Homo sapiens: one gene and its partners. The protein of the gene in region 1 purifies or fractionates together with the protein of each later gene. This does not show direct contact. Each region holds a gene or a part of one and is shown in the gene's direction. Other genes may lie near its edges. The genes, in order: RNF13, VAMP7, TSPAN3, AP1S2, HSDL1, LMNB1 and PI4K2A.

Region 1 (3,500 bases):
AGATGAATTGGAACTCCTTTGTATATCATTTTCTTCTTTTTTCTTGCTGCATTTAGGATCCTCTCTTTGTCCTTGACCTTTGAGAGTTTGATTAGTGTATGTCTTGGGGTAGTCTTATTTGGGTCAAATCTGTTTGTTCTCTGACCTTCCTGTAGCTGGTTATTTACATCTTTCTCAAGTTTTGGAAAGTTTTTTATTATTTTTTTGAATAAGCTTTCTATACCTTACTTTTGCTCAGCTCCCTCTTGAACACAATAATTCTTAGAGTTAGTCTTTTGAGGTAATTTTCTTTATCTTGTAGGAGATCTTTATTGCTTTTCACTCTTTTCTTTTTTCTCTTCTGTGTACTTAAAAAATAGGCTGTCTTTGACTTGGCTGATTCTTTCTTCTCCTTGATCCATTCTGATGTTGAGAGCCTTTAATGAATTTTTCAGGTCAGCAGATGTATTTCTCAGTTCCAAAATTTGTTTGATTTAAACAAAATTATTTCAATTTTCTGGTTAAAATTTTCTGATAAATTTCTGAATTTCTTTTCTGTGTTATCTTGGAGATCACTGAGTTTCCTTAAAACTACTATTTTGAATTCTTGGTTAAAAAGTTCACATATTAGGCCGGGCGCGGTGGCTCACGCCTGTAATCCCAGCACTTTGGGAGGCTGAGGCGGGCGGATCACAAGGTCAGGAGATCGAGACCATCCCGGCTAAAACGGTGAAACCCCGTCTCTACTAAAAAATACAAAAAATTAGCCGGGCGTAGTGGCGGGCGCCTGTAGTCCCAGCTACTTGGGAGGCTGAGGCAGGAGAATGGCATGAACCCGGGAGGCGGAGCTTGCAGTGAGCCGAGATCCCGCCACTGCACTCCAGCCTGGGCGACAGAGCGAGACTCCGCCTCAGAAAAAAAAAAAAGTTCACATATTGCCATCTTGTTAGGGTTGCTTGTTGGTTTCTTGCTTCGTCCATTTGGGGATCATGGTTCCCTGCTTGCTCTTGTTTCTTGTGGATGTATGTCAGTGTCTTTGCATTGAAAGATTAGTTATTTATTCTGTTCTTCTCTGTCTGGCTTGTTTTGGTTTCTATTGGATGTATTTGGTTAGAGGTTATTTACTGCTAGGTTACTGCCTCCTTTTTGGCTATAGGTGATGCCTTAAGCTTAGGTTCACCTTGGCTCTAGTAAATTATCAAAATGCTGCCCTTCCCAAAGGGGCAGTTCCCAACAGGGATATCTTGGCACTGTGGGAAGGCTGACTGTGGAGGTTCATGCCCAGTGGACCTGTGGGACAAACCTACTGTATGGTGCTACTGAATAGCTACTGTGATTTGGCATCTCCTTTGGTAGAATTACAAAGGAGGGCTCTCCTTTCCAGGGCTAGGGATTGTAGTCCTGCTTCCCCTCTTAGTCTCTATCTACCTCATGGATATTTCTCCCTTCAGGTACTTGTGATGCTTTCTGTGGGTTAAGGAAGGGACAAATCTCCTCCTAGGGAACCCAAGATAGTGGGCAATCTGGTTCCACTTTGGTCTTACTTTTCCAGTGTAGAAACAGTGAGTTGGAGGGAAATTTTCCTTGCAGTTGGTGCTCGGCAAAATGGGGGGAGGGGCATAGTAGATGTGGAAGTCTGATTCTCTGTCTGCTGGGAGTTTTTTTTACTTCTCTGTGGCCCTGGGAATGATCTCTCCTTATATTTGAGTTCTAGCTTATTTCTGGCCGTAATCTCATTGCTGTACATTTGTTTTTCTTTTTCTATGGGGGGAGTCAAACCAGCTTGCTTCTGCATCATCATTTTGGAGCTGGAAGCCAACCTATATGGCTTGAGTTTAATTGCTGTAATAATCATGTTGAAAAATATTTCCTACACTATATGATTTAGCATTGGAGCAAAAACTTAGTGTTTGCAGAAAGGCACTCAGAGCAGGATGCAAATTTAACAAGAATAAAGCAAATATTCATCATTGGAAGGATGACCACAGTTGTACTTCGTTGCAAAACAAAAACCGAGTGCTTTATGGGATTAAGAAGAGGAGCTATTATATGAGCAAATGAAAGAGTGATACATTTTATACCCAAGATATGTACAAACACTTTCCATATCACAAGCTGAGCAATATAATTTCAGGGAGGAGAAATTGCCAAATCCTGTGGAATAGATGATTGGTGTGACCAGTTCAGGACCATACAGAACTGTTGTTAAGGCATTGTCTCATAGCTTTAATTGCCTCCTTCCTTTATAAATGAAATCAGTGAATTTGATCATCTTTTTATGTGTTTATTCACTTTTTACAAAAGATAGACATTTGATTTTTCTGTTTTAGTCTGTTACCAGATTTTTTTTTTTTTTTTTTTTTTCCGAGACGGAGTTTCGCTCTATCGCCCAGGCTGGAGTGCAGTGGCAGAATCTTGACTCACTGCAACTTCCACCTCCTGGGTTCAAGCCATTCTCCTGCCTCAGCCTCCCAAGTAGCTGGGACTACAGGTGTGTGCCACCATGCTCGGCTAATTTTTGTATTTTTAGTAGAGATGGGGTTTTGCCATGTTGGCCAGGCTGGTCTTGAACTCCTGACTTCAGGTGATCCATCTGCCTCGGCCTCCCAAAGTGCTGGGATTGCAAATGTGAGTCACTGTGACCAGCCTGTTACTACATTTTCTTATGTCAAACCATCCTGCATTCCTGGGAAAGCAACTTGCTGTTTACTTTTTAAATTCATGGTTATCTCGTGGACGTCTTTTCAGTTTAGTGTATACAGGTCTTCCTTATTTTTTTAAATGGCTGCATTATTTTCCTATTGTATAAATATACTATAATTGTTTAAATAGTTACCTTGTGGATATGCATGATTTCCAGTTTTTGCTATTAAAAATAATGTACCAATGACTGTCTTTCCACATACACCTTACATACTCAGGCTAGCATTTCTGCAGAATAAATTTCTAGAAATTTATTTATTATGTGCATTTCATTGTCTGCTAACATGAAAGAAAGTTAATTTTTAAGACATATTTGCTTGGTTTGAAAATGTCAAATATTGTTCGAAAATATACCAGTGGTTGTCTTTGGGGTGATTGGCTTATGCCTGAGTTTGCTTATTATTATTATTTTTTTAACTTCAATACAAAAGATAGAACTTATTTTAGAAAACTAAATGCTTGTGAAAGCAAATGCTGCTTTAGAAGTTCCGTGATTGTGAGCAATTTTACATGCCCAATGATACATCTAGCATAATGCAAAACACATGACAAATCGAAAAGATATTTGTAGAAGTAAGTTGATTGATTTACTGAGTGAAACAGAGAGATAATTTTTACCAATTCTTTTTCAGGGTTTTTTGATTAACTCAAAACCAGAGAATGCCTGTGAACCCATAGTGCCTCCACCAGTAAAAGACAATTCATCTGGCACTTTCATCGTGTTAATTAGAAGACTTGATTGTAATTTTGATATAAAGGTATGATTATCTTTTTTCATTTTTTGTTTCCTATTTGTTCAGTTAGCTAATTTAAATCAT
Region 2 (3,500 bases), on another chromosome or scaffold:
GGTTGGTAAGCTATTAATTATTGCCTCAATTTCAGAGCCTGTTATTGGTCTATTCAGAGATTCAACTTCTTCCTGGTTTAGTCTTGGGAGGGTGTATGTGTCAAGGAATTTATCCATTTCTTCTAGATTTTCTAGTTTATTTGTGTAGAGGTGTTTGTAGTATTCTCTGATGGTAGTTTGTATTTCTGTGGGATCGGTGGTGATATCCCCTTTTATCATTTTTTATTGCGTCTATTTGATTCTTCTCTCTTTTCTTCTTTATTAGTCTTGCTAGCAGTCTATCAATTTTGTTGATCTTTTCAAAAAACCAGCTCCTGGATTCATTGATTTCTTGAAGGGTTTTTTGTGTCTCTATCTCGTTCAGTTCTGCTCTGAGTTATTTCTTGCCTTCTGCTAGCTTTTGAATGTGTTTGCTCTTGTTCCTCTAGTTCTTTTAATTGTGATGTTAGGGTGTCAATTTTATATCTTTCCTGCTTCCTTTTGTGGGCATTTAGTGCTATAAATTTCCCTCTACACACTGCTTTAAATGTGTCCCAGAGATTCTGGTATGTTGTGTCTTTGTTCTCATTGGTTTCAAAGAACATGTTTATTTCTGCATTCATTTCGTTATGTACCCAGTAGTCATTCAGGAGCAGGTTGTTCAGTCTCCATGTAGCTGAGCAGTTTTGAGTGAGTTTCTTAATCTTGAGTTCTAATTTGATTTCACTGTGGTCTGAGAGACAGTTTGTTATAATTTCTGTTCTTTTACATTTGCTGAGGAGTGCTTTACTTCCAACTATGTGGTCAATTTTGGAATAAGTGCGATGTGGTGCTGAGAAGAATGTATATTCTGTTGATTTGGGGTGGAGAGTTCTGTAGATGTCTGTTAGGTCCGCTTGGTGCAGAGCTGAGTTCAATTCCTGGATATCCTTGTTAACTTTCTGTCTCATTGATCTGTCTAATGTTGACAGTGGGGTGTTAAAGTCTCCCTTTATTATTGTATGGGAGTCTAAGTCTCTTTGTAGGTCTCTAAGGACTTGCTTTATGAATCTGGGTCCTCCTGTATTGGGTGCATAAATATTTAGGATAGTTAGCTCTTCTTGTTGAATTGATCCCTTTACCATTATGTAATGGCCTTCTTTGTCTCTTTTGATCCTTGCTAGTTTAAAGTCTGTTTTATCAGAGACTAGGATTGCAACCCCTGCCTTTTTTTGTTTTCCATTTGCTTGGTAGATCTTCCTGCATCCCTTTATTTTGAGCCTATGTGTGTCTCTGCACATGAGATGGATTTCCTGAATACAGCACACTGATGGGTCTTTACTCTTTATCTAATTTGCCAGTCTGTGTCTTTTAATTGGAGCATTTAGCCCATTTACATTTAAGGTTGATACTGTTATGTGTGAATTTGATCCTGTCATTATGATGCTAGCTGGTTATTTTGCTCGTTAGTTGATGCAGTTTCTTCCTAGCCTTGATGGTCTTTACAATTTGGCATGTTTTTCCAGTGGCTGGTATGTGTTGTTCCTTTCCATGTTTAGTGCTTCCTTCAGGAGCTCTTGTAAGGCAGGCCTGGTGGTGACAAAATCTCTCAGCATTTGCTTGTCTGTAAAGGATTTTATTTTTCCTTCACCTATGAAGCTTAGTTTGGCTGGATATGAAATTCTGGGTTGAAAATTCTTTTCTTTAAGAATTTTGGATATTGGCCCCCACTCTCTTCTGGCTTGTAGAGTTTCTGCCGAGAGATCAGCTGTTAGTCTGATGGGCTTCCCTTTGTGGGTAACCCGACCTTTCTCTCTGGCTGCCCTTAACATTTTTTCCTTCATTTCAACTTTGGTGATCTGACAATTATGTGTCTCGGAGTTGCTCTTCTCGAGGAGTATCTTTGTGGCGTTCTCTGTATTTCCTGAATTTGAATGTTGGCCTGCCTTGCTAGGTTGGGGAAGTTCTCCTGGCTAATATCCTGCAGAGTGTTTTCCAACTTGGTTCCATTCTCCCCATCACTTTCAGGTACACCAATCAGACGTAGATTTGGTCTTTTCACATAGTCCCATATTTCTTGGAGGCTTTTTTCGTTTCTTTTTATTCTTTTTTCTCTAAACTTCTCTTCTCGCTTCATTTCATTCATTTGGTCTTCAATCACGGATACCCTTTCTTCCAGTTGTTCGAATCGGCTACTGAAGTTTGTGCATTCGTCACTTAGTTCTCGTGCCATGGTTTTCAGCTCCATCAGGTCATTTAAGGACTTGTCTACATTGGTTATTCTAGTTAGCCATTCATCTAATCTTTTTTTCAAGGTTTTTAGCTTCTTTGTGCTGGGTTCAAACTTCCTCCTTTAGCTCAGAGAAGTTTGATCATCTGAAGCCTTCTTTTCTCAACTCGTCAAAGTCATTCTCTGTCTACCTTTGTTCTGTTGCTGGTGAGGAGCTGCGTTCCTTTGGAGGAGGAGAGGCGCTCTGATTTTTAGAATTTTCAGTTTTTCTGCTGTTTTTTTCCCTATCTTTGTGGTTTTATCTACCTTTGGTCTTTGATGATGGTGACATACAGATGGGGTTTTTGTGTGGATGTCCTTTCTGTTTGTTAGTTTTCCTTCTAACAGTCAGGACCCTCAGCTGCAGGTCTGTTGGAGTTTGTCGGAGGGCCACTCCAGACCCTGTTTGCCTGGGTATCAGCAGCGGAGGCTGCAGAACAGTGAATATTGCTGAACACCAAATGTTGCTCTCTGATCGTTCCTCTGGAGGTTTTGTCTCAGAGGGGTACCCGCCGTGTGAGGTGTCAGTCTGCCTCTACTGGGGGGTACCTCCCAGTTAGGCTGCTTGGGGGTCAGGGACCCACTTGAGGAGGCAGTCTGTCTGTTCTCAGATCTCAAACTCTGTCCTGGGAGAACCACTACTCTCTTCAAAGCTGTCAGACAGGGACATTTAAGTTTGCAGAGGTTTCTGCTGCCTTTTGTTCAGCTATGCCCTGCCCCCAGAGGTGGAGTCTACAGAGGCAGGCAGGCCTCCTTGAGCTGTGGTGGGCTCCACCCAGTTCGAGCTTCCCGGCAGCTTTGTTTACCTACTCAAGCCTCAGCAATGGCGGGCGCCTCTCCTCCAGCCTCGCTGCCACCTTGCAGTTCAATCTCAGACTGCTGTGCTAGCAATGAGTGAGGCTCCGTGGGTGTGGGACCCTCTGAGCCAGGCGCGGGATATAATCTCCTGGTGTGCTGTTTGCTAAGACCGTTGGAAAAGCGCAGTATTAGGGTGGGAGTGATCCGATTTTCCAGGTGCCATCTGTCACAGCTTCCCTTGGCTAGGAAAGGGAATTCCCTGACCCCTTGTGCTTCCCGGGTGAGGCGATGTCTCGCCCTGCTTCGGCTCACGCTCGGTGGGCTGCACCCACTGTCCAACAAGCCCCAGTGAGATGAAGCCGGTATCTCAGTTGGAAATGCAGAAATCATCCGTCTTGTGCGTTGCTCACGCTGGGGGCTGTAGACTGGAGCTGTTCCTATTTGGCCATCTTGGAACAGGAATCAAAGGAAATTT
Region 3 (3,500 bases), on another chromosome or scaffold:
TATTTCTGTGTAAATTAGCCATGTTTCTTCACATACATGGCTATCCTGATGTGACCAATATTTTTCCCCAACCTTCACCCTTGAAAAGTTTATTTCATCACCTAGCCAGATGAGAAACATCTTGAACTTTTTTTTATCATCTGATTTCCCCTTCCCTGACCCCAGTCTGTACTCTCCCAAAGTACTTAGCCAAAGGGGTGATGACGCAAGAGAGAGGTATGTGTCACAGGAAAGGTGGGAGTCCAGATTGACTCCAGGGGAGGTGGGAGGTCTATATATACCTTTAGAAAACAAGATAAGAAAAGGCAACAGAAAAACTGTCAAAAAAAAGTTGTTATGGACAGTCTGATACACACAAAGGTAGAAAGAATAGTGTAATAGATGTTTGCACCCCGACCTTGCCTCAGTAATATCAACTTTTCGTCAGTCTTATTGCCCCTACTTACTTTTTGCTTCATTATCTTAAAGCAAATCTCAAAATTTTTAAGACCAAATATTTTAAATACTTTGTCATTGGAAATAATATTTAACATGGAACCAGATATTTAACATGTAAGACATGAAGATTTTCCTTAGTTAGAAACTACCGCTTATAGGCAATGTACTTTTCTTTTCTTTTTTTTTTTTTTTTTTTTTTTTTTTTTTTTTTTTTTTTTTTGAGATGGCGAAATTTCACTCTTGTTGCCCAGGCTGGAGTGCAGTGGCGCGATCTTGGCTCACTGCAACCTCCACCTCCCGGGTTCAAGTGATTCTCCTGCCTCAGCCTTTGTATTTTTAGTAGAGACGGGGTTTCACCATGTTGGTCAGGCTGGTCTTGAACTCTTGACCTCAGGTGACTCGCCCATCTCGGCCTCCCAAAGTGCTGGGATTACAGGCGTGAGCCACTGCACCCGGCCTGGCAATGTACTTTTCATATGGAGATTCTGGAGCCACTAGCCATGTCTGGCTGTTTACATTAAAATTTAAAATGCAGTTTTCTAGTCACACTAGCCACAATTTAAGTGCTCAGTAGAGCTTCATGTGGCTAGTGGCTGCTATATTGGATCATGCAGACTTTCCATTATAGAAAGTTGTATCGGACATCACTGGTCTAGAGTAGCTTATTTTAAAGCTCTGTAGTACATGGAACTTCAGGTATTTGGTTTTTGTGAGAAATAATACTTATTCTCTTCTCCTTTAGCTGCATTGTTGTGGAATTCACAACTACTCAGACTGGGAAAATACAGATTGGTTCAAAGAAACCAAAAACCAGAGTGTCCCTCTTAGCTGCTGCAGAGAGACTGCCAGCAATTGTAATGGCAGCCTGGCCCACCCTTCCGACCTCTATGCTGAGGTGAGTCTCTTGGCCACGACTTGAGTCTAGCTTGATTAACCTGTTTTTCACCATGTCTTATCACCATCTGGGACTTCTTTTCTGCCACCTTGCTTGTCTTTAATGTCATATATTGTTTTACTGTAAATTATTATAAAATGCATGTCTTTGTTTTAATTACATGTCTGTAAATTATACCAATCATGGAATCTTTTTTCCACTCTTTCAGTTTCTGTCATTTTCCTTTCTGTAAGTGGGTAGTGGCCTGTGAATCTGCAGCTTTAACTTTTAAAGAACACTTCTAACGAGGATGACTGTGTTTGTTACAGGGGTGTGAGGCTCTAGTAGTGAAGAAGCTACAAGAAATCATGATGCATGTGATCTGGGCCGCACTGGCATTTGCAGCTATTCAGGTAAGCACAGCTTGCCAAGGAGTTCTATCGGAGTGAGTTGGTTCTCTGTTGTCAGCCCTGAATGGTTTTAATCCCCATCACAGTGAATCTTTGTGTATGTAGGTAATGTGGAAGTGACTGAGGTACTGGCCTCCAGTTTCCCATGTTTTCCATTTCTTGTCTATACACCTAGACCCGGAATGGTCTAAAGAAACCAGAAATCTGGATGGGGAGGGACCACGTGTTGAGGGAACTCCTCGTCTTACTGTCTTTCTTGATTAGTGAGTGACCTGTTCAAAACATAAACGAACTGTTGTCTTAGTGTATTCTTGGAAGATATTTTATTAGAATGTCACAAAATTTTTAAAAATTGTACTTCTTTCTTTCAGTTTGGGAATACAAAGCTTTATTCAGTTTTTTTGTATGCTAGTTCTCCCTCTAGTTCTTGTTTTTCTGTCCTCACAGGTTTTATATATTCATATACGTAAATCAAGAACTGGTACTACAGCACTGGTCTCTTGCACTAAACACAACAACTTTTAAAAATAGAGACAAGGTCTCACTCTGTCACCCAGGCTTGAGTGCAATGACATGATAATAGCTCACTGTAACTTTGAACTCCTGGGCTCAAGCGATCCTCCTGCTTCAGCCTCTCCAGTAGCTGGGACTACAAGCACGGGCCACCACACCAGACTAATTTTTAATTTTTTTTTTTTTTTTCCAGAAATGGGGTCTCATTATGTTGCCCAGGCTGGTCTCAAACTCCTGGCCTCAAGCAATCCTCTGTCTTGGCCTCCTAAAGTGTTGGGATTTACAGGCGTGAGCCACCGCACCCAGCTTATGCTTTCTTTTCTTTTCTTTTCTTTTTTTTTTTTTTACGACAGAGTTTTGCTTTTGTTGCCCAGGCTAGAGTGCAATGGTGTGATCTCAGCTCACTGCAACCTCTGCCTCCCAGGTTCCAGTGATTCTTCTGCCTCAGCTTCCCAAGTAGCTGGGATTACAGGTTCCCGCTACCATGCCCAGCTAATTTTTGTATTTTTAGTAGAGACAGGTTTTTACCATGTTGGCCAGGTTGGTCTTGAACTCCTGACCTCAGGTGATCCACCTGCCTCGGCCTCCCAAAGTACTGGGATTATAGACGTGAGCCATCGCGCCCAGCCTCAGCTTATGCTTTCTTAAGCCTGAAACCTATTTCAAGAGCTAAAAGAGCCAGGTGTGATGGGTTACACCTGTAATCCCAGCACTTTGGGAGACCGAGGAGTAGGATCCCATGATGTTAGGAGTTTGAGACCAGCCTGGGCAATAAGACTCCATTTCTACCAAAAAAAAAATTTTTTTTAAAAAAGAAAAATGTAGATAACTTTTATTTGTTAAATAAAACCAATGTAATTGCTAGTTTAAATGTAAGTTGCTTGGATTGCTTGCTCTTTGTATATTTGAACAGAAGCTAGTGTATTTAATGGGAAAGGCCTTTTAAAATGGCAAAAGGATGATTGTTTACTTTGCTGATATTCAGACAGCCCTGAAATGATTCATTAAAAAGCCTACCTCTTTATTTGCCATGGTCTTTGCCCTTCTAAGCATTTACTCTGTAGCTCTGCATAGCAGTAATCTGATGATCAGCAGGGATTTATTTCATATTTTGATTATTTATGCAAACACATTCATTTAGCTAAAAATAATGAAATATGAGGAAGGTCTCTTTTCCCAAATAGAATTCTGAACTGTGCATTCTTAATGATTTTATGTTCAGTAATAAAGCCACATGTACTAGCATGCAGCAAAAAAGTTTTGGA
Region 4 (2,754 bases), on another chromosome or scaffold:
TGAATAATAACTCTTTCAAAGCATTAATGCTGAGTTTATATAGTTCAAAAATTCTAATATTCATTCAGTTTTAATACCTAAATACTTATATTTTACTAGTGATGGCATTCTAATATATTAAGTCCTCATTTAAATACTTGATACTTTGTTAACTGTGGCATTATATTTCTGAATTTTAAAACCTTTAATATTGGTAACTATTGCATATTCTTTTAATAAAACATGCAGCATATTTTTTTATAAAAGGAAAAGAATTCATTGTTTATATCTAGAGAGCATAAAGCCTAAGTTAAGTAAGTTATTAAACAATAACTTCACAAGATGTTCAAATCGATTTATCACTGAAAGAAGATCTATGAAAATGTGTTTTGACCAAACTTAGTATTAGGCAGGTACACAGATAAGATTTTCCATTCTTAACATTCTCACTGTAATGCACGACATTTGAAGCACCTGGATGTGCTATCAATCAGGTGGGAAATTTAGCATTATATATTGGAAGCATTGAGAAACATTGGTCTTTCATTTCTATTTTTTTTTCCCCTCCTTTCCTCCTCCTGCCCCACAATATATTATTCATCTGGTTTTAATGCTACATAAATATGCATTGTCTCATGCCTGTTTGTGTTGGATGCCTTGTGCTAAGCTGTAACAAAATGTTGCTTCTTTTGCTGTCTGTATACAGCTGCTTGCTTTAAATTAGTAGATTCTGAAATAGCTTTCCTTGCATGTCTAAAATAAAAGTATTGCATGTACTTCGTCTCATGTGAATGACTTTTTCTTTTCCATCCCTCATAAAATAACGTTTTATATTTTCATTTTTCTAGGCAAATTTTTTAAATTGTGGTTAAAAACACATAACACAGAATTCACCATCTTACGCAGTTTTAAGTGTACAGTTCAGTTGTGTTAGTTAAGTTTATTCACATTGTTGTGCAGCAGATCTGCAGGACTTTTTCATCTGGCAGAACTGAAACTCTATACCCATTAATCAACAATTCCCCATTTCTCCCTGTCCCCCAGCCCCTGGCAACCACCATTCGACTTTCTGTTTCTATAAATTTTACTACTTTAGATAGATAATAGTTTTTCTGGGTAGTTTTGAGCTACAATTTCAGTGTGAACATGTGTAAGTTCCATTTTATATTATCACCACAATTTATTTTAAAACTCTACCTGTGCAAGTCTCACAAGAATAAAATGTGTAAATAATTCTTTGAAACTAGGCCTTTTAGAAAGGACACATATTTTCAATAATGCATATTTGATAAGCAGTATGATTCTCTACAGGAAATGCTATATAAGATTGCAGGCAGTGAGCACATGGGGAAAAGTCTGACCAGCTCCACGGAGTAGCTGTGGGGCATTTTTACATGGAGAAGCTGAGAATGTAAACTGTAGAATTCAATGGAGGCATTATTTAATTGATACATTCAAGGCTACATGAACCTTTAAACTACTTAACATTACATGGAAATAATTATTTTAAATTTTTCTTGAATATTTATGAGATTTAGATGTCATTCTCAGTGTATTTAATGCTTAAGGCTAAATATAAATGAAAGGGATTGGCTTACATCACTCTTGGGTGTTACATCATTTCCACTGGACTTTCTTAAAAAACTTTATCATGAAAACTTCAAGACTCACGAGTATAGGAAATAGTATAAAGAACCCTCGTGTACACATCACTGAGCTTCAAGAACCATCAACTTAATACTGTTTCCCCAACCACTCCCCGCATTTTTGCCTCAGTATCTTAGAGCAAGCCCTAGACATCTTGTCAGTTTGTCTTTAATACTTCAGTATGTGTCCCTAACAGATAAAGTACCATGCCCCACAAAATTAACAGGAATTAATAATTACTATCTTATGCCTGGCTCAATTTTTCCTAATTGTCTGAAAAATGCCTTTTTATATTTGGTTTGTTAGAATCAGATTCCAACCAAGACTCTCACATTGTATCTGATTGATGTGCGTTTTAAGTCTCTTTTAATCTTTAACAAATCGTCTGCTTTTTCCCGCCTTGCCATTTTTTTTTTTTAAAACGAGGTCATTTATGCTGCAGGATGTCCTACCTTATGGATTTGGCCATCATACTCATATGGCAATGTTTAGCTGTTCTTATATCCCTCATTTCTATTTAGATCTGTAACCTGACTAGATTGAGGTTCAATTTGAGGGGGCAAGAATACTTCATAGGTTAGACTCTTTTTAAAAAAATACCTTTTTTCGCTAAAGCTGATTTTTACCCATTTTTATTACTATGCAGACATACTAAAAGGTCATCATATGAGCTTTATAAGTAGAATTGGTGTATAGTACTTGCGTTTAATAATAAATGCTAAATCATTTCGATTTCAATTGTGTAACTATATCACCTAACATTTTTGAAGCACTTTCTATAAATTAGGCAGAGCCTTAATTCACTTAATCTCAACATATGAAGGTAAGTACTATTATCCATGTTTTCCAAATAAGGAAACAGACCATAGAGTTTAAGTAATTTACTTAAGATTACACCATGAAGTGCTTTACATGCAATTAATATTCTAAAGATTTATGGTTTAATATAATTTCTCTTCTCCTTGCTTTGTGCTGTACCATGATTAGGATGCGAAAGTAAGTTTATTACTGGATGCCAAAAATTTATATTATTTTCCATCATTAAAATATAGTGTTGCCTTTTAATTACAAAATTCGTTGCTAGTAATACCTGAAAGTTGGCCTCCTTGGTCCTTTATTTTGTGATTT
Region 5 (3,500 bases), on another chromosome or scaffold:
CACTGCAAGCTCTGCCTCCCCGGTTCATGCCATTCTCCTGCCTCAGCCTCCTGAGTAGCTGGGACTACAGGTGCCCGCCACCACGCCCTGCTAATTTTTTGTATTTTTAGTAGAGACAGGGTTTCACCCTGTTGGCCAGGATGGTTTTGATCTCCTGACCTCGTGATCCGCCCGTCTCGGCCTCCCAAAGTGCTGGGACTACAGGCGCGAGCCACCGTGGCTGGCCTGTAGTATCTATTTTTTCATTGAAAACACTGTTTTAACAGCCTAGATGTATGCCTACCTGTTATTAGAAGAATAAGCTTAATATTCCAAGTGTCTAGGTTTCTTTAGTCATAGCTTGTTATTCCCAATTTTATTACATTTTGCTTGAGAGGTCCTGGTACATACAGGTAATTACATACAGGTAATTGTTTTTGCATTTACTTTCCTCATGGCCTTGTGTTTGATTAGTTATGACAAAAGGCACCCACACTTTTTATGAGTTATTTCCGGAACTCACAATTTAGGATGGTCTAACATAGAATCTCGGTTGTTTTTTTTGTTTGTTTTTTGGGGTTTTTCTTGAGATGGAGTCTAACTCTGTCGCCCAGGCTGGAGTGCAGTGGTGCAATCTTGGCTCACTGTTACTTCCGCCTGCTTGATTCAAGTGATTCTCCTTCCTCAGCCACCCAAGCTGGGCAGTCACCACCATACCCGGCTAATTTTTGTGTTTTTAGTAGAGATCAGGTTTCACCATGTTGGCCAGGCTGGTCTTGAACTCCTGACCTCAAGTGATCTGCCCACCTCGGCCTCCCAAAGTGCTGGGATTACAGGTGTGAGCCACCGTCCCTGGCTGGAATGTCAGTTTTTAATGTTCTTATAGGATATTAATGTTTTGGGCCTGTCTTTGGGAGTCCAGTACTTATGACTGTTCAAGGGCTACAGCCAGTGTGAAAACTCTGATACCGTGCCCGTCATCAGCATATCCAGCAGCAGGAGGGTTGTGGGAGGGGTGGTGGCGCGGCTTCCTCTCATGCAGATCTGGAAACAGGTATGCTCGTTCGCTACACTGAAGGGGGGGCCCTAACTTTGAATATATTTCAAAGGATTGTCAATCAAAGGATTTGGGAGCAGTAAGGGGTATTGGTGACTGCTGTACGGAAGATTGCTCAGAAAAAAGAAAGACTTTGTTGAACTAGACAGCTCATATTTTAGGTCATCTCAGCCAATCTGGTTCATAAAGAAAAATTACCCCAAAGGAGCATTTATTTTAGTTGTTTTTAGCTTAAGTATTTGGTTTATGTACTTAGTCAAATTTAAAATGTTTCCTTTTCATGATGAACTTTGGCATTCTCATTGTGGGAGGTGAGTTTCTGTGCACAGAGCCCCAGTGGACAGCATTTTACCTGTAGGGAATAAAGGGGCCCAACTTTTCATTTGAGGAAAACTTTTTTGTTTGTTTGTTTCGAGATGGAGTCTCACTCTGTCGCCCAGGCTGGAGCGCAGTGGCATGATCTCGGCTCACTGTAACTTCCTCCTCCCGGGTTCAAGCAGTTCTGTGCCTCAGCCTCCCAAGTAGCTGGGATTACATGTGCCCACCACCATGCCCAGCTAATTTTTGTATTTTTAATAGAGACGAGGTTTCACCATCTTGGCCAGACTGGTCTTGAACTCCTGACCACCTGCCTTGGCCTCCCAAAGTGCTGGGATTATAGGCATGAGCCACCGCGCCCGGCTGAGGAAAACATTTTTTAAACTTAATGCCACATTGGCTTAATTTGGTAACTTAATATAGCAGCAATATCAACTTAATACGGTACCAGTATGAAACTTTCTTTTTTAGAGAGATTGTTTCCTTATCGTAGGGCATTTAGGAATCCTACTGCTTCTCCATTTCTTCAGTTTTCAGTCATATTTCTTGTGTACGTTTTGTTGATTTGTAATTCACACTACACATTTATATATATTTATTCAATAGTTTTAAAATTATTTTATATGCCTTTTATCACAATATGGTGCCATTCTTGTATGTGTTCCGTTTCAGTGGTTCATTTGTTTTCTTCTGCTTGGTTCCTTTTTTACTTTGCAAAACTTTGTTGAGCTCAGATTACACTGCAGTGGAGTAGGAGGGAATTCCCCATTCTTTCTCAAACTTAGGCTAATTTGTGCTGCTATTGTTGGGTATTTTCTTAGTATCCAGACTTTTTTTTTTTTTTCTATTTTAAAGGGATTTCTTCAAAAGTTGCCACCCCCAGAAGTTTTATATTTCTTTTTCTTTTGGCTTAAAATCATGTTCTTTTTAGAATATAAGCTGTGTCCTTGGGTTTGTGTGTATCTGAGTTCCCTGTAATATAAGTGTAGTCTATTGCAGTTGTTTTGATATTTTGTCTTTCGCAGGATGCACACGGTTGGTTTAGCCTGATATGAAGTCCACTCACTCGGTCTGTGGCCAGACCCCCCATGCCTGGCCTTTGTCTACTTCTGCAGGGTTATCTCTGATTGCAGGCACACACCTACCACATCATGTGGCATTTTACATTATTTTGTTAAATGTCTGCGTCTTCACCTAGGGACGGTCATTTAGTTCATCTGTGAATCCTTTGAATCACAGTACATAGAACATAGTAGGTGCTTAGTATATACTTGCTATGTGGACACTCAACAGAGTTGTGTTGGACTTTTCTTTCCTCAAATGTAAGAGACCAGGCAACATAATGGTTACAAATTAAGTTAGAAGATGGAGGAGTGCTCCCTCTATTGTCATTTGAGAAGCCATTTTTCCAAGCTTGGAGGGTATCTCTTTAAAAAAAATTTTTTTTTTAATTGATGTAAAGGTTTTTGAAAGCTGAGTTTTGTCTCCAGTGGATTGTAAGCTTTTGAGGCCAAGGCCATGTCTTAGTGCCACCTCTGTTTCATCTCCTTTGTCCCTACACAGGTAGTAGGTCCTCCATTCTTGCTGATTATGAATAAAGCAAAGAAATACATGTACCTCTGCTGTATGAATTAGAAGCTTTGTGTTTGTTATTATTAGACTAGGAGCATGTTACAGGCACAGAGCATATTGTGTTTATCTCTGTAGCCACAGCATGTAGTGTAGTACCTGAATTTTAGTGGGAATTTGGTAACTTCTGGTAGTTATGTTGATTAGTCTCCTTGGAAGAAAGTAACTTTATAAGCTACGGATGTTAAATGGTGAGATCATAAATTGGCTGAATCTCCAGGCATGGTGGCTCACACCTGTAATCCCAGCACTTTGGGAGGCCAAGGGTGGCGGATCACCTGAGGTCAGGAGTTTGAGACCATCCTGGCTAACGCGGTGAAACCCTGTCTCTACTAAAAATACAAAAAATTAGCCGGGCGAGGTGGCGGGCGCCTGTAGTCCCAGCTACTCCGGAGGCTGAGGCAGGAGAATGGCGTGAACCCCAGGGGGCGGAGCCTGCAGTGAGCCGAGATTGCGCCACTGCACTCCAGCCTGGGCGACAGCGAGACTCCGTCTCAAAAAAAAAAAAAAAAATTAG
Region 6 (3,500 bases), on another chromosome or scaffold:
TCTTAACATTTTTTTGGCTAAGTACAGAAAAATTATATGTATATTTACAGAACTTACATTTGTGGAATATGTCTTTTATTCTTTTATCAGCCAAAACTATCCTGAGGTCTGTGTTTTGTATTTGAGGAATTTTGGGTTTTAATTTCTTAAAATCTCTTGAATTCTAGTGAGTTAGAGATTCCATAGGGTTGTACTGTTTTCCAGTCTAGGAAATGATTTAAAATAGCTGCCTGGTGCTAATGTTGGAATGTTCCTAGAAAGTAAATATGTTTCCTTGCATCTTAAGTCTAGAGCATGTTTGGAAAGGATTCAAGAATTAGAGGACTTGCTTGCTAAAGAAAAAGACAACTCTCGTCGCATGCTGACAGACAAAGAGAGAGAGATGGCGGAAATAAGGGATCAAATGCAGCAACAGCTGAATGACTATGAACAGCTTCTTGATGTAAAGTTAGCCCTGGACATGGAAATCAGTGCTTACAGGAAACTCTTAGAAGGCGAAGAAGAGAGGTAAGGAACTTAAGGGTCACCCTACCTTATGGTCCACTTTTTGCCTCTCACCCTTTTTATTGAAATAAAAATAAATAGCATTTTAAAAAGAACTTTATTTTCTTGGTCATTTCTTTGAACACCTAGGTATAGAAGTAGTAATAGATCATATTTCTACCTCATCGCAGAAAATGTTGCTCAAGTACTCTTAGTTTATTTATTATTATTACTTTAAATGCTGAACTGCATCAGGATGGATTAGTTCCTTTGAGATTTTAAGTGTTTTGGTGATTTAATATATTGTAAAATGCCAAACTGGCTGAAAGAGACTTTACATATTATTTATTTATTTATTTATTTATTTATTTATTTATTTATTTATTTTTGAGACAGAGTCTCAGCCTGTTGCCCAGGCTAGAGTGCAGTGGTGTGATTCTCGGCTCACTGCAACCTTCACCTCCTGGTTTCAAGCGATTTGCCTACCTCAGCCTCCTGAGTAACTGGGATTACAGGCGTGTGTCACCACACCCGGCTAATTTTGTTTTTAGTAGAGAAGAGGTTTCACCATGTTGGCCAGGCTGGTCTCAAACTCCTGACTGCAAGTGACCCACCCGCCTCAGCCTCCCAAAGTGCTAGGATTACAGGTGTGAGCCACCACGCCCGGCTGGCTTTATATATATTTTAAATCTGGTCAATGTATAAATATTTTTGACACCTGTTCTCAGAAAAGAGTTCCAAAAGGGCCAGGTGCATTGCCTCATGCCTGTAATCCCGGCACTTTGGGAGGCCAAGGCAGGCGGATCACATGAGGTCAGGAGTTCAAGACCAGCCTGGTCAACATGGTGAAACTCCGTCTCTAATGAAAATACAAAAATTAGCTGGGCATGGTGGCAGGCACCTGTAATCCCAGCTACTTGGGAGGCTGAGACAGAATTGCTTGAACCTGGGAGGTGGAGTTTGCAGTGAGCCAAGATTGTGCCATTGCACTCCAGCCTGGGTGACAAGAGTGAAACTCTGTCTCACAAAAAAAAGAAAAAGAAAAAAAAAGTTCCAAAAGGAAAGTGGCTGATTTAGGATAAAAAGCCAGATAATTTTAATATTATATCCGTTGTGATCATAAGAAAGTACAGGTACGAAAAGAGAAAAAAGTACACCAACTATAACAGTGGCTGTGGTGGGTGGTGGTAGATCAGATGACTTTCTACCCATTTACCAGACTTCTTGCATTATGGTTATATTACTTCCATCCCTAGAGAAAACATTCAGATTGTTATTTTTTAAAAAAGAAAATTGACGATGGGCACCTTATGAAGAAGTTTACATTAGTTAAGGTAAACTTTGGCTTTGGCTAACAGATTGTAAGTAATATTTTGCTTTAGAAATGCATGGGTGGGATATTCTTCTTCTTATTATTATTATTTTGAGACAGGTTTTCACTCTGTCACCCAGGCTAGAGTGCAGTGGTGTGATCTCAGCTCACTGCAGCCTCTGCCTCCCGGGTTCAAGCCATTCTCCTGCCTCAGCCTCCTGAGTAGCTAGTATTACAGGCGCCCACCACCACGCCTGGCTAATTTTTGTATTTTTAGTAGAGACGGGGTTTCACCATGTTGGTCAGGCTGATCTTGAACTCCTGACCTCAAGCAATCCACCTGCCTTGGCCTCCCAAAGTGCTGTTGGGTTACAGACATGAGCCTCTGTGCCCAGCCCTTGTTTTTTTGTTTTTTTTTTTTTTAAGGCGAGAAGGGCATATGTGTTTTAAAAATGAATTGTTTTATTTTTCCCATATAGGTTGAAGCTGTCTCCAAGCCCTTCTTCCCGTGTGACAGTATCCCGAGCATCCTCAAGTCGTAGTGTACGTACAACTAGAGGAAAGCGGAAGAGGGTTGATGTGGAAGAATCAGAGGCGAGTAGTAGTGTTAGCATCTCTCATTCCGCCTCAGCCACTGGAAATGTTTGCATCGAAGAAATTGATGTTGATGGGAAATTTATCCGCTTGAAGAACACTTCTGAACAGGTAATAAAATAGACCCTTTTTTTTCTAGCAAGGCTTTGTGGATTGCTAGATTCTCTTGCAATTGTCATAGCTCCTTAGTTTTTGTTTGGATTCATTACGTCTTCATGGAATAAGGGTTTATGTCCTTTTTACTTAAATTCATAAAATAAAATAAAAATTAAAATAGGAGGAGGAAGAGTTAGGTACCCTTAGTAGTTTAAAGATTTGCTTCATTAACCCTTCTTTAGAGGGCCAGGGCTTTTTTGAAAAGCATGTTCCTTTTATCACAGTGGTTCTGAGGATGAGTTATTATTATTCTCTGCCCTAGCCAAATTTGTGAAGAAGTTGGAGCAATTGGATGAAAATGGTGGATATTCTTTCGGTCATTAACTTAATAAAAAGCTTACTGAAAGAAGGAGATAAGAGCCTGGACTCAGATATTAAGGGAATATTTTTCCCTGCAAATAAATGAATGAACAAATGCTAATACTTTACATGAAAAATAGCATGAAGCCTTATTTTGAAATATGTTTAAAAGTAAACATGAAGTATTCATAGCAGAGATTTCTGAAATTTAGGGCTGGGGCTTTCGGGAGCTCTGTAGTGTGGGCCTTCCCTAGCTCTGCATCAAGGAGCTGGAGGCCATGATGGGTTGTGAGATGATACTAGAGGAAGGCATGGTCTGGGAGCGTGCAGGCGGCAGTGGGATGGATGTCACATCTTGAAACATATGTTCAGGGCCTGCTAAAAGTAGTTTTGAAAATTAGTCTTTTCTCACCACAGTTATTAAAACTATCTTGCATGTGGATGAATATGTAATTTGGATGAGTGAAGGAGCACTAATGAGCACCAACAGTTTTAATGCTAAAGAGAATAGGCTCTAAGGTCTCTTTGTAGCCTTTTTTTTTTTTTTGAGTCTTGCTCTGTTGCCCAGGTCGGAGTGCAGTGGCATGATCTTGGCTCCTCCACCTCTTGGGTTCAAGAGATTCTCCTGCCTCAGCCTCCTGAGTAGCTGGGATTA
Region 7 (3,500 bases), on another chromosome or scaffold:
AAAAGAGATGGAGAAGAGGGAAAAAGGAGCAAGGAAGAAAGAGAAGACTTAAGATGTTCTTTGGCCACAACCCTTTCTAGCAGTGGGTCTCTTAGCTGCACACACGAGCTGGTGTCTTCCCCTTACCAACTGGGAGAAACCTGAGTCCAACTGTAAGTAGGAATTGTCTGCCTATGCCCTGTCATTTCTTTCCAGATTCCTGCTGACTTGGTCTGTGGGCTATTTTGGTCAACTCGGATTTAACATCCTCTTTTTCTTTGGTCTCTGTAGAGGATCATTGCTGTCTTCAAACCCAAGAATGAAGAGCCCTATGGGCATCTTAATCCTAAGTGGACCAAGTGGCTGCAGAAGCTGTGCTGTCCTTGCTGCTTTGGCCGTGACTGCCTTGTCCTTAACCAGGGCTATCTCTCAGAAGCAGGGGCCAGCCTGGTGGACCAAAAACTGGAACTCAACATTGTTCCCCGTACAAAGGTCAGTGACCCATCTCCAGGAAGCCTTACTGCCTGGCCACAGTTTTCCTGGGGCCTAAGCCCTGCTACATGTTAGTGGGACCTTGGGTCCAGTGGGGTCATTTATACCCTAAGTCTGGGTTCTCGATCTTTTTTCGGGAGGATGGCAGGATTAGGCTTATGATTTGATCACCTGATGAAGGCTATCTTTTGAAGGATACACACACAATTTTTGCATACAATTTTAGGAAATTCACAAACTTCTACTGCATGTTTATGGCTCCCTTGGTCTTTGAATCCCAGCTAACCCCAAGCTAGTTAGAAACCTAGTGACTTTGTGGCTTACTCTCAGACTTCTGAGCCATCCCAGCATTTCGATACAGTCTAGGACTGGCTGATGACAGCTAAGAACTTCTGCAGGGTCTGACAAGGAAGACTTTAGGACAGGCTGAGGGTTAGAACAATGGTCTGGCCTGAACCCTACAGGGAACTGACATGGAATATTTCTAACTTATCTTTATGCTGTCGAATTTTGGGACTTGTCTGAACACATCAAAATAGGGGTGCCAGATCTAGGCAAACTCACACTCAGAATGGATTCATACACATCTTGTATGTGTTATAGACATAGTTGAGGTCTCCCCCAACCCCCACCCCCACCAATATGCTTGAATACAGAATTGATTGCATACAATTTGAGGGAGTTTACTGACACCAGGCTAAGAACCCCTGCACTACAAGGTATTCCATGAAACTCACCAAAGGTTATGAGGGGAAGGAATCTACTGGTCAGCATATGAACATGTCCGGACACATCATTCACTGAGTACGTGGCTACCTGGGGTTTAGTAACAACTTAGGTGGGACTCTCATCTGATGCCCTGAGGCTGCTGAGTCATCTAAACAATCCTGGCTCCGTGCTTAGTCTTAACTAGTCTATGCTAGTTTATTTAGTTATTTACTAAATAACTAAAACTAAATTTATTTAGTTATTTAGTAAATAACTCTTTGAGAATCTGATGAAACCTATAGACCCCCTTTCCAGAAAAAGTACATATATTTGCAATTATTGTTTTGTGTATAATTTTAGGGCAATGGTTCATAAACGTTGCAGTCTATCTGTTGACACCCCAGGGAGCATGTCTCTAGATTAAAATCCCTCTGCTTAAAGTTTTCTTTTCTTTCTTATTTTTAGAGACAGGGTCTTGCTCTGTTGCCCAGGCTGGGGTGCAGTGGCATGATCACAACTCACTGCAGCCTTGACCTCCCAGGCTCAAGCAGTCCTCCCACCTCAGCCTCTCAGGTTGGGACTACGGGCATGTGCCACCATGCCTGGCTAATTTTTTTTTTTTTTAATTTTTTGTAGAGACAAGGTCTCCCTGTTTTGCCCAGGCTGGTCTTGAACTCCTGGGCTCAAGCTATCCTCCTGCCTTGGCCTCCCAAAGTGCTGGGATTACAAGTGTGAGCCACCACACCCAGCCTTAAAGATGTCTTCTCAGGTTTAGATAGCAGATTCTATGAGCAAAGAGATTGATCAGCAGTAGAAACTTCCCTTCCGTTTGAGAGGAAAATGTGACTATTGTGGATATTTAACCATGTCTGCTCCTTTGCTACTAAACTCCAAACAATTAGCCAACTAGTTTGTAAGTTATAGAAGTCAGAGACCACTTCTCAAGATTTCCTCTCTCATTCTCAGCACCTAGCAAAATACTATATTTATAGTAAGCATTCATGAAGTACCAGCTGAGTCAGTAAATGAATATGAAATCATGAGAAACAATACCAAAGTTCTTCCAACTTTAGGTCTAGCGAGAAAATGTTTGACCAGGCTTCTAGTTCCCATTTCACATCTAATTCACTGCCTGGCTTTGTACAGCTCATTCCTTCTCTTTATGCCTTACTTTTCCCTCTCTGTGCAGATAGTTTTACAGCATGCTTTGAACATCTTGTATGATAATTAATGTTCTTAAGTCTCCTAACCTGAAATGCTTCTACTAGGCTCCTCTTAGACTCTAGAAACTTTTACATTCTCCTTGCTTATCACTCTATAGTTTTCTTCCTTTACTAGGCAAATAGCAGACCGTGTCTGGCTCTATGCCTACCTGCTCTGTTGGTGCTTCTGGAGTGTGGTGCCCAAGAATCAGAGGACTTGAGTTTGAATTCTTGCTCTGCAGTTTTTGATTTGTGTAACACTTGGGCAAGTCATGTAACCTCCCTAGGCTCAGTTTCCTTACTGTAAAAATAGGGATATAAATAGTTCCTACTTTGTAGAGTGGCCATCAATATTACACAAGACAGCCTATATGAAGCACATAGCTGAGTGAGTGCCAGGCACAACGTAAACCCTCCATATGTTAGCCTGTGATATTTTTATCAGCTATTCTAATCGTTAGTGTCACCCCCACAATCCCTTTCGTCCCTATCTTTGGTCTTCCTCTTTCCCTGTTAGAGAACCTTCACGAGGCCTGAGGATCTTTTGCATCAGAAAGTCAGCAACAACAAAAATACTTGTCTTGGCTGGGCTCATTGGCTCACGCCTGTAATCCCAGCACTTTGGGAGGCCTAAGTGGGTGGATCACCTCAGGTCAGGAGTTCGAGACCAGCCTGGCCAACAGGGTGAAACCCTGTCTCTACTAAAAATACAAAACTTAGCTGAGCATGGTGGTGCGTGCCTGTAATCCCAGCTACTTGGGAGGCTGAGGCAGGAGAATCGCTTGAACCTGGAAGGCAGAGGTTGCAGTGAGCTGAGATTGTGCCACCACACTCTATCCTGGGCAACAGAGCGAGACTCCGTCTCAAAAAAAAAAAATACTTGTCTTCCATGAGACTGAGATGAGACAGAACTTTGGAAGCTTAACATATAGCTGCTGGAGAATAGTAAGAGGACTCCTCTCCCTGTCTCCCCAACTCTTGTGACAGGACTCTATCCAGTTGATCAGAGCATCTGTCATTATAGAAACAAGGTTCACATTGCATTGGAACTTCAAATGGTAAGGCTCTAATTCTCACTCACTGGCTGTCTCTGCTCTCTGCTCCTATGAGGTTTCAGGT

The links.
Region 2: the proteins of RNF13 (region 1) and VAMP7 purify together in Homo sapiens (affinity purification with mass spectrometry; one large-scale study listed by BioGRID and IntAct). This does not show direct contact.
Region 3: the proteins of RNF13 (region 1) and TSPAN3 purify together in Homo sapiens (affinity purification with mass spectrometry; 3 studies listed by BioGRID and IntAct, with this or other methods). This does not show direct contact.
Region 4: the proteins of RNF13 (region 1) and AP1S2 purify together in Homo sapiens (affinity purification with mass spectrometry; 2 studies listed by BioGRID and IntAct, with this or other methods). This does not show direct contact.
Region 5: the proteins of RNF13 (region 1) and HSDL1 purify together in Homo sapiens (affinity purification with mass spectrometry; one large-scale study listed by BioGRID and IntAct). This does not show direct contact.
Region 6: the proteins of RNF13 (region 1) and LMNB1 purify together in Homo sapiens (co-purification; one study listed by BioGRID). This does not show direct contact.
Region 7: the proteins of RNF13 (region 1) and PI4K2A purify together in Homo sapiens (affinity purification with mass spectrometry; one large-scale study listed by BioGRID and IntAct). This does not show direct contact.

Annotation. Positions count from the first base shown.
Region 1 is NC_000003.12:149,868,715-149,872,214, forward strand, and holds part of RNF13 (E3 ubiquitin-protein ligase RNF13 isoform 1 precursor), read left to right. Parts: intron 1-3,314; coding exon 3,315-3,440; intron 3,441-3,500. UniProt on the Homo sapiens protein: E3 ubiquitin-protein ligase that regulates cell proliferation. Involved in apoptosis regulation. Mediates ER stress-induced activation of JNK signaling pathway and apoptosis by promoting ERN1 activation and splicing of XBP1 mRNA.
Region 2 is NC_000023.11:155,933,345-155,936,844, forward strand, and holds part of VAMP7 (vesicle-associated membrane protein 7), read left to right. Parts: intron 1-3,500. UniProt on the Homo sapiens protein: Involved in the targeting and/or fusion of transport vesicles to their target membrane during transport of proteins from the early endosome to the lysosome. Required for heterotypic fusion of late endosomes with lysosomes and homotypic lysosomal fusion.
Region 3 is NC_000015.10:77,050,610-77,054,109, reverse strand, and holds part of TSPAN3 (tetraspanin-3), read left to right. Parts: intron 1-1,180; coding exon 1,181-1,333; intron 1,334-1,641; coding exon 1,642-1,725; intron 1,726-3,500. UniProt on the Homo sapiens protein: Regulates the proliferation and migration of oligodendrocytes, a process essential for normal myelination and repair.
Region 4 is NC_000023.11:15,828,060-15,830,813, reverse strand, and holds part of AP1S2 (AP-1 complex subunit sigma-2), read left to right. Parts: exon of another isoform or gene 1-755; intron 756-2,613; coding exon 2,614-2,622; intron 2,623-2,754. UniProt on the Homo sapiens protein: Subunit of clathrin-associated adaptor protein complex 1 that plays a role in protein sorting in the late-Golgi/trans-Golgi network (TGN) and/or endosomes.
Region 5 is NC_000016.10:84,131,678-84,135,177, reverse strand, and holds part of HSDL1 (inactive hydroxysteroid dehydrogenase-like protein 1), read left to right. Parts: intron 1-3,500.
Region 6 is NC_000005.10:126,818,636-126,822,135, forward strand, and holds part of LMNB1 (lamin-B1), read left to right. Parts: exon of another isoform or gene 1-286; coding exon 287-507; intron 508-2,274; coding exon 2,275-2,500; intron 2,501-3,500. UniProt on the Homo sapiens protein: Lamins are intermediate filament proteins that assemble into a filamentous meshwork, and which constitute the major components of the nuclear lamina, a fibrous layer on the nucleoplasmic side of the inner nuclear membrane.
Region 7 is NC_000010.11:97,650,671-97,654,170, forward strand, and holds part of PI4K2A (phosphatidylinositol 4-kinase type 2-alpha), read left to right. Parts: intron 1-270; coding exon 271-471; intron 472-3,500. UniProt on the Homo sapiens protein: Membrane-bound phosphatidylinositol-4 kinase (PI4-kinase) that catalyzes the phosphorylation of phosphatidylinositol (PI) to phosphatidylinositol 4-phosphate (PI4P), a lipid that plays important roles in endocytosis, Golgi function, protein sorting and membrane trafficking and is required for prolonged survival of neurons.